Homo sapiens: one gene and its partners. The protein of the gene in region 1 purifies or fractionates together with the protein of each later gene. This does not show direct contact. Each region holds a gene or a part of one and is shown on either strand. Other genes may lie near its edges.

The links.
Region 2: the proteins of ZFP91 (region 1) and CLTA purify together in Homo sapiens (co-immunoprecipitation; one large-scale study listed by IntAct). This does not show direct contact.
Region 3: the proteins of ZFP91 (region 1) and ECD purify together in Homo sapiens (affinity purification with western blotting; one study listed by BioGRID). This does not show direct contact.

The regions. Positions count from the first base shown.
Region 1 is NC_000011.10:58,606,563-58,610,221, forward strand, and holds part of ZFP91 (E3 ubiquitin-protein ligase ZFP91), read left to right. Parts: intron 1-3,267; coding exon 3,268-3,477; intron 3,478-3,659. UniProt on the Homo sapiens protein: Atypical E3 ubiquitin-protein ligase that mediates 'Lys-63'-linked ubiquitination of MAP3K14/NIK, leading to stabilize and activate MAP3K14/NIK. It thereby acts as an activator of the non-canonical NF-kappa-B2/NFKB2 pathway.
Region 2 is NC_000009.12:36,207,842-36,210,319, forward strand, and holds part of CLTA (clathrin light chain A), read left to right. Parts: exon of another isoform or gene 1-713; intron 714-1,425; coding exon of another isoform or gene 1,426-1,479; intron 1,480-2,478. UniProt on the Homo sapiens protein: Clathrin is the major protein of the polyhedral coat of coated pits and vesicles.
Region 3 is NC_000010.11:73,161,465-73,165,123, forward strand, and holds part of ECD (protein ecdysoneless homolog), read right to left. Parts: intron 2,487-3,659; 5' UTR 2,474-2,486; coding exon 2,269-2,473; intron 1-2,268. UniProt on the Homo sapiens protein: Regulator of p53/TP53 stability and function. Inhibits MDM2-mediated degradation of p53/TP53 possibly by cooperating in part with TXNIP. May be involved transcriptional regulation. In vitro has intrinsic transactivation activity enhanced by EP300.

The DNA of each region.
Region 1 (3,659 bases):
TATGATATGAAATTTAGGATACAAATGATCCCATCATGCAGGTACTGAGCATAGTACCCAATAGTTTTTCAACCTCCCCCCAATAATCTCCAGTTTCTGTTGTTGCCATCTTTATGTCCATGAGTACCTAATGTTTAGCTCCTACTTTGGTCTCTGTGGTCTCTAAAGGTTCTGGTCCTTTCGCTTATATTCATCAAGTGATTTGACAGATTTCCTTAAACATCTTTACTCACCTTTTTCTTGATTCAGTGCTCACTTGGCTTTTATAACCTTTAACTATTGTTAAGAGTTTCCACAAAGTTGATTCTGACAGTGTTTGTTCATGATATGTGTTTATTTCTGTGGAGGGACATTTTTGCTGTCATCTCTGACAGAGTGGTTTTTTTTTAAGACTAGATTTTTAGGGGACGGGAGCAGTAGTATTCAATAAGATAGGCTATTATGCCTTATTCATAATGGTAAACTATTGTTATCAAATTGGCATCATTTATCCAGTGAGTAAAATCTACAGTATAGGAGGTTGTGGGCATACCATCCTTTCATCATGAAGAAGAAAGGAGCTTTGTTGAGGACAGGAGGTTATGGAGTGAGTTCAAAGTCCAACTCGGTACAGTTGGGTTAAGGAAAAAAAAGATGTGTCTATTATTAAATGTTGTAATACTTCATAGGTGGTGTTGAATTGTTCTTTTTGATGAAATTGTTTTAAAAGTAGTCATGACCTATATGTAAAAGTCCTTCATTATTAATCTCAAAATATGATTTCTAAATCTAGGTGTCCTTAGCTAACCTTGTGATTTTGAATAAGCTTCTTTTTTGGGCTTCCAGATACTTTATGGGTAAAACGTAATGGATTGTGCTTAGACTGAATGGCCTTTGAGGTATTTTCACCTATATTAATGTTTTATTTTTTATTTTTTCTATTAAAATAGCTCAGATAGGAGGGTGATGCAATAATGAATGGAAAAAGACAGCTGAAAGGAAATGCACAACTGATTTTGATGGTTGTTTAGAACTGTTCGCACTGCTATTTATCTCTGTGTTTCAAACTAATTTCATTACTTCAGTATATTGTCATAAAACTTTCAGTGTAATTAAAGCTAAAATAGCCTATAGTCACCACATTGCTCCATAGTAAACTATTTTTTAATGTTAAGCAAAAATGTTGCCATACTGTATATATAGTTTTGTGTCTTTTTTATACATTTAACAATATTTTTGCTGATAATTCCATGTCATTTTTAACATAAACCTACCTCTATATAGTATTCAATCATACTAAGGTATCATGGTTTATTTAAGCACTTTATCTTTGACAGAGGGTTAGGTTGTTTCTGTTCTTTGCTATTATAAACATAATACAGTTAACCTCCATGTGGTAGTTTATATTTCTAGGGCATATACTTAAAGGTGAAATTACTACACATATTTTTGGACCTACCTTGGAAGTAACCAGTACTTAAGAATTTCTTGTACTTCTTCCAGAAATGTTATTATAGTATGTAAGATATATATATATACACACACACACACATACTGTAATGACTAATGTGTAGCACTGTTTTTAAGTAGTAGAAGAGTAGACAACTAAACATTCAAAGGGGGATTGGTTTCATAAGTTATATATTTGTGTGTATATATATCTTACATATATATCTCTCTCTTACATATGTACACAATTATTTGTGAAACCAATCCCTCTTTGAATGTTGTTTTCTACTCTTCTACTACTTAAAAACAGTGCTATATGTTAATCATTTATAAATATGATTGTAATTTTGTAGGATAAATTTCTAGTAGTTGAACATCATGTGGAAAGGTATATACATTTATAATTTTGATGTATATTGTCAAATTGGTCTGCATGGAGGTTTTGCTAATACATTATCATATGTGTGTTAGAGGACCTGTTTTCCCACAGTCTTGACAATACATTATGTTGTCAAATATGATCATCCCCAATATGATACATGAAAAATGGTGTCATGCTATCGTTTTCATTTGAGTCTCTTGTTCTGAGTGGATTGAGCTTTGAGCTTTTGTTTTTTGTTTTTTCTTTTTTTGGAATGGAGTCTTGCTCTTTCGCCGAGGCTGGAGTGCAGTGGCGCAGTCTCAGCTCACTGCAACCTCCACCTCCCGGGTTCAAGTGATTCTCCTGCCTCAGCCTCCCCAGTAGCTGGGATTGCAGTTAGGCACCACGACGCCTGGCTACCTTTTGTATTTTTGGTAGAGACGGGGTTTCACCACGTTGGCCAGGCTGGTCACAAACGCCTGACCTTTTGATCTGCCCGCCTTGGCCACTCAAAGTGCTGGGATTACAGGTGTGAGCCACTGAGCCCGGCCTGTTAGTTCCTATTTTTCTATTGGGTTATTAGACTTTGTTTATGGTTGATTTTTGCCATGAGGAAAATTGTTTTTATGTGTATCTTATGACCTGAAATTTTGTTTTATTATTGGGCCTTTCCCGTTCTGAGTTTATTAAAGAATCTTCTATTGTTAAAATGGGCTCAATTCTAATGTACTTTTTTTTTATATAGGTCTAAGTATTTAGCTACGCCAGGTATGAAAGCCAGTTTCTGAGATTAACTTTTTATTACTTACTACTCAAGAGAGGATGACCTACCGTACTTCACCCTTAAAACATGACAAAATATAGGATAACAATAACAGATTTGTGTGTGCTCCTGTACACAATGTCTTATAGGACAACTGAAACAGAATAGCACCAGAGCTGGACTTTACCATTCAATTGCTCTATAGATTAGTTCAAATTTATGGTGTGGTTCCAAGAAAAACTCTTGATTAGAGTGAAAAGTACTCCTGTTAGGAATTCCTCTTTAGTAATTTGTTATAGACTTGTTTGGTTGTAAATAACATCTAGATCTATGGTTCTTTCTTTTTGGTGCCTCTGTAGTTCTGGTCATCTTTTTGGGACTAATTAATTTAGTTTCTTTTAACTTAGATCTAAAAGGTAGAATTTCATGAATCCAGTTACTTAAGTGTATTTTGCATAGTTAGCATTGCATTTTTTAGAAGATAAGGCAGTATAAAATTACTACTTTGCAACATGAAGTAATTTCTTTAGCATGATGACATTAAGGATAAGTTTTATCTCATTTTCCTTTTTTTATTATTTCAATTAAAGTCTTCAGTTTTTTTTCCTTTGAAAATATTTAATTTATCTTCAACTGTATTTACAATTAGTAGATATACAGGGATGGTTATTGGTTAACTGTAAACTTAAAGAGAATGGTATGTCTTTTTATTTAGATCCCAAGGAAGAAAAAGAGGAAGAAGACGATTCTGCCCTCCCTCAGGAAGTTTCCATTGCTGCATCTAGACCTAGCCGGGGCTGGCGTAGTAGTAGGACATCTGTTTCTCGCCATCGTGATACAGAGAACACCCGAAGCTCTCGGTCCAAGACCGGTTCATTGCAGCTCATTTGCAAGTCAGAACCAAATACAGACCAACTTGATTATGGTACAGTGCAACTAGAATATGGCTGTTTACTAACTAGTTGCTGTTACATTTTAAATGTAATGTTGAACATTTGTGTTAACAGCTTAACTGTCAGGGGCAGGTTTGATGGTGTAGGTGGTATTTCTTTGAACAGTTTGCAGATATTCTGCTTTTGTATAATTACCCCATGCAGTAATTTGATT
Region 2 (2,478 bases), on another chromosome or scaffold:
GTTTAGTCCTTTGTGTAAACTAAAAGGGTTATGGGTTTATAAGCCAGCCTGCCTTGCCTTTTCCTCCCACTCATTCTGCCCACAAACAACTCTGTTTTCCTGCTGAGTCACTTTAAGTTATAATCAGCCTGCTCTTTTTGCTTTCTTTAAATTTCCACAAAACACCTCCTGTGTATAAAACAAAATGGGAAAGAAGGAAGGGCATGTGTGAGCTTAAAAATTAACTTAAAATTACTAGAATTTGCCTTCAAATAAGTATGTGAGGTTAGCTTAATGACCAGGCATGATTATCCTTGAAAAATGTCTTTCCCCTTGCCCACCCCAAATCGACTTGACAAAGGACAGGGTAAGACTCCATGAGGGAGGTTCCATGTCCAGCCACAGTGGAGAAGAGTGGGCTGGCAGAGCCCAGGGAGTCAGTCCAGGACAACAGAGTCAAAGCCAGCCTGGCCCCTGCTGTCAAAATTTATCCACCCAGTCTGCCCCCTCCTTCCTGTCTGAGAGCCCTGCCATGTTGAGAGTTAAGAAGGGATGAAGTTCTGGATTCTGGGCTGCACCTTATCAAAGCCAATTGAGTCTGGTGTAAAAATATTCAGAAACTGTACCCGCTTCTTGAGTAGAGAGAGAGCCATATTCAGGAACAACAGAAGCCAGGGCCAGGATCCTAGTCCAGTGTTCTTCCCACCAGACCACTCACCTCCAGCCGTTTTTTCCTGTAAGGTTGAGATTTTAAAATGACGATATGTGTTCCCAGGATTCTGGAAGTGTATCCCACCCAGACAGTGTGGGGAAGCAGTAGTTAGATAATCCAAGATAAAACTGGCTTTGGGTCCTAGCGCATCTGGTGTCTGGCAGCATTCCTGCCCAGTGCATTAACTGAAACAGGAAGGTGGCGTGGCTTTCTGGGCACATACAGCAGGGAAGAAGCATGACTATACAGTAGAAAGAGCCCTGGACTTAGGGCCAGGCTGCCTTGGTTGTGAGTCCTGAATGCTGCCACTGTGGTGTAGCTGAGCAAGTTGTTCATCTCTAAGCCTCAGTTACCTCATCTGTACAGTGGGGGTGAGAACAGTCAGGGTCATAGGTTGTTAACAGTTAAGGATTGAATCAACATAATGTATGTGAAAGGGCTTAGTCCATGATTGGGTGCTTAATAAATGCCCGTGTTGCTGGGGTGAGCCAAAGGGATGAAGTTGGCAGTGCTTGCTCTGTCGTGGAGCAGTCCCCACGTGGGAAGGCCAGCGGGAAACCAGGCCTGCTGAAGTCTCCAGCGCTGGAAGCCTCACGGGGGTTAGGAAGGAGCCTTGGGAGCAGCTCCTCAGAGCACAGTTGTACCTCAATTGTGGATTTTAGATGTTTCTGCTTCTCAATGTTCTCTCTTTTTTCCTGCCTGCTTGCCTGCCTTTTGGACCTCTTGCTGTCTAGGGTGGCAGATGAAGCTTTCTACAAACAACCCTTCGCTGACGTGATTGGTTATGTGTATGTTGCAAAACTAATTCCTTTTTCTACATCTGATTCTTTCTACTTTTGTTTAGAGTTAATGCTCCTTTTATGTCACAAGTTGCTTTGCTTTTTAAATTATTTCAAATTGGCACTTTGGGGGCTGCCTAAGAATTGATAAGCGGGGTATGATCTGTTGATGAATCTTCCAGATTTGTGACTCCCTGCATCCTCTGATGGCCATTTTTCATATTTGGGGTTTTGGAGGGAAGAAAGCTAACTCGCTTTCAAAATGTGTCATTTGCGATCTTATCTGGGAACGGTTTGAGGCTCGGGGGAACTCTGCTCTCTTGCTCTTGGCTGCCATCACTGCTGCCATGCCCTGTTGCCTGCCTGCCTCAGGTGGGAAGGAGGTTTCCCCACCTGGGAGCAGGTGGCAGTCCCAGGAGGTTAGGAGCCAGTGAGCAGCAGCACCTTGCATTGCCAAAATCAGAGCTGTGGGGCAGCATTTTCCATACTTGGTTCATTCAAACAATGTGGGGTCGTTTGCCTCTCCCTCAGGCAGAAGAGTCCAGAGCAGAGGGGGTTGTCTCCAGTGGGTGTCTATAATTGTTCCTCTGTGGTCTTGCATGTCAGAAATTGCTATTTAGTGGTCAGCTTCTGATGTCCTGTCTCCTAGCACAGGGAAGCCCCCAGCTTTGAGATCAGGATAGTCAAAGTGTCTTGATACGGGCCACTTGGGCTTCTCCCCCTGACCCCCCCAAAAGAAACCTGCATCTTCTCTGGAGAAGGTGTTTTTCTTATTCTTTTTTTTTTCTTTTTTTCTTTTTTCTTTTTTTTAAGGATTTCTTTTATCAAAGCAGTATTGCTGAAGAGTTGGAAACAGTTCTCATTGTCTCCTCCTTAAAAATTAGGGCTGGCTTTACATGAGAAGTAAGGGTGGAATGGAAGAGGAGAGGAACCTGTGGAAGGTGGGCGATGAGCTCAGGTCTGTAGAGCCTCTCAGGGCCTATGACCTTGAGATGTTCATCCCCTTAG
Region 3 (3,659 bases), on another chromosome or scaffold:
ACAAATTCCTAGAAACACAACCTGTCAAGACTGGATCATGAGAAATACAAAAATCTGAACAGATCTATAACTAGTAAGGAGATTGAATCAATAATCCAAAAGCTCCTAACAAAGAAAAGCTGGCTTCACCGGGGAATTCTTCCAAACATTTAAAGAATTTGACACCAATCCTCCTCAAAATCTTCCAAAAAAATAAAAGGGAGGGAATTCCCAAATTCCTTCTGAGGCCAGCATTACCCTAATACCAAAGCCAGACAAAGACAATATGAGAAAGCTGTAGATCAATATCCCTGATGAGTATCAATGCAGAAATCCTTAACAAAATATCAGCAATCTGAATTCAACAACACATTAAATAGATTATTCACCACGACCAAGCGAGATTTATTCCTGGGATGCAAGGATGGTTCAACACACGAAAATCAATGTACAGTTAATATCCCACATTAACAGAATGAAGGTCAAACAAGTGCATTACAGAGTGTCTCAAGAGCTGCCATGGCAAACAATAGGTAGAAGAACAGCCCAACCAACTCTTCTTCTCCCCACCCCAGATCTCAAGTTTCTTCAACTAGAGAACTCCAATTAAAGTAACTATTTTTGTCTATATTAGACTTTGATTTAAATTTCATCTTGAAGCAATGGGAACTACTGAAGGATATTAAGCAGGAGAGTGACACAATCAAATTTGTGTTTTACAAACATAACCAGCAACAGTGTTAGGAACTAGAAAGACAGGAACCAGAGAGGTAAGTTAGGAGGCTGTTGTTGTTTTCCAGATGTAGAGATAAAGAGGGTCTACACTGAAGCCAAATAGATGTAGAGAAGGGGTCATATTTTAGAAGCATTCAGGATTTAGCATCTGACTGAACATGGTGAAGTGAGGAACTGATTATGATTTTGAATTACTGACTAGCTTGGATAACTGGGTGGATGGCAATGCCATTAAACAAGATAAGAAAACAGTAAAAATGGTTTTCTAGAGGATGGATAAAGGGTTGGTTTTAGATGTGCTACACCAATGTGACAGTGTTCTTGCCAATAAATATCATATGTATTTCAATGAATAAGAGTTCAATAAAATTAACAGTAAGATATGTAGCAATTGTTGCCAAAAGATAACAGATACGCACTAAACTGAGAGTATCACAGTGATGTATACTTGTGATGTATACATGGGGGGTATATCTTGTGATGGTATCACAAGATGCCAGGCTCCTGATCCCAAATAAGACCTCACATAAGTCACTGTGTAAGGAGAGACTTGGTCACCTACCCATGATTTATTTTCATAAAACTATAAGAAATGATAGAACTGTAATGTGACCAGTTCCCCACCAGACTACTTAAGGGTATATGTCTGCTGCTTAAACTTCAAAGGCCAGCTGGCAAGCCAAAGCCATCATGCCTAGCAGAGGAGCAGGTCCTGAGAACCCAAACATTGCAGGGCATAGCTGGGAACATACCAAGGAAAACAGTGTCATTGCATATACGCAGTAGGCAAAGAGCCAAAAAATTAGCTTACTAGCAACTTAAATATGGGAGGTGGGGTGGATTTCTAGAGCTGTCCTGATGCTGCCCAGGAGTGTCTTGTCTGTAAGTCCTAATAAACTCATCTACTTGCCAAGATAGACCTGTCCGAGTCATTCTTTGGTCTCTCCGCTCCCTCCTAGTTTAATCCTGGGTTTTTCTCATAACAGGACAGAGTGCCATATTTTGCCAGAGGTCAGATCTCAAGCACCAACAACACAGGGAAGCAATGAAGAAACCTCAAAATGCTTGTAAGTGGCAAATATTAGTCATAAAGCCCAATTATTTATCTTTATAAGCTGGGCAGAGCCACTCAGATCCTCACCAAAATGGCTATATGAAACAAGGCAGCCTACCAAACACATCACCAAAATAAGGAATCCTGAGTAACAGCAAAAGGAACCATGATTAAAGCCAGATGCCTGAAACTATTTAGTATAGATACTTAGATACATTATGGCATAGTGTAGTAACTAAAGTTCAAAAGAATAGCCATGAGTTTAATAATGTTTAGTATATGCTAATTCCTAAGGCAAATTTAGAAAGTTTTCATTAATATGATTTTTTTTAAAAAAAAGCTTTAAGGCTAACTGAATATAGACAAGTATTACTCATCTAAAAAGTTTAGTGTATTAATCTCTTCCTGGCAACACTGAATGAAGCGTGGACTATTACACATCACTGTTGTCAGGATAACATTAAAAGTCACACTAATCCAAACAAGTAAAAGAGCCTTACCTTTCCCAGGTTTATATTTAAGATTGAAAGGCTGATTCTGCCAGATGTAGGGGACCAGCATAGGTGCAAACCGAGTGATTATTCTCTCAATGTACTTCTGAAGAATCTCTTTATGTTTATCTGAGTCCCTTGACTCATCTGGTATCAGGAACAGGCAGTACTCCACTGTGTCTTCCATCGTAGCAAGCTTCATGGTTTCTTCCATTCTTCTTTGAAAACTATGTTTAAAGTTCCAAAATATAAACCACATAGAACAATGCAGAAGTAACATCTGAACTCTTTTAGATGGTTCTATGAACACTGTTTTCTAAAATTTAGTTAGGCCGGGCACAGTGGTTCATGCATGTAATCCTATCACTTTGGGAGGCCGAGACAGGCAGATCACTGGAGGTCAGGAGTTTGAGACCAGCCTGGCCAACATGGTGAAACCCCGTCTCTACTAAAAATACAAAATACTAAAAATACAAAAATTAGCTGGGTGTGGTGGCATGCACCTGTGATCCTAGCTACTTGGGAGGCTAAAGCAGGAGAATCACTTGAACCTAGGAGGCAGAGGTTGCAATGAGCCGAGATCATGCCACTGCACTCCAGCTTGGGTGACAGAGCAAGACTCCAACTAAAAAAAAAAATAAATAAAAATAAAAAATAAAAAAATAAAATTTAGTCACATACCATCACCATGGTTTTGGCCTTAACCATACACCACCTACAGTAATATTTATTTAATTTTTTTAAACTTTATTTATTTATTTGAGATGGAGTTTCACTCTTGTTGCCCAGGCTGGAGTGCAGCGGCATGATCACAGCTCATTGCAACCTCCACCTCTTGGGCTCAAGCCATCCTCCCACCTCAGCCTCCCAAGTAGCTGGGACCACAGGTGCATGCCACCATGCCCAGCTAACTTTTTTTGTATTTTTAGTAGAGGCAAGGTTTTGCCATATTGCCCAGGCTGGCCTAGAACTTCTGAGCTCAAGCAGTTCTTCCACCTTGGTCTCCCAAAGTGCTGGGGTTATAGGCATCTGGCCTAATATTATTTTTAATGACCCTTTACACTTAAAACTTTATCTTTAAAATTACGTTAAAAGGAAACCTTGATATAATACAGTGAATAGAAATCTAGTATCACATTCCCCAATTAGTAAGTATGTAAGAATAAAATCTTTACTTTTTATATTTTTCCTATTTTGGAAGTGAAGAATGAAATTTTTAATGTTTGCCCTTGTACTAGCAGTGGTATGTGTAATATATTTCGAGAAACACTGCACTAACACCTACTGTTTACATACTATCAAAAACCCCAGTTCTGCCACTAATTAGTTGTGCCACTATGGACATTTCACTTTCTCTTTCTGGGTTTTTTTCTTTAATTTAGGATAAGTTATCTACCATC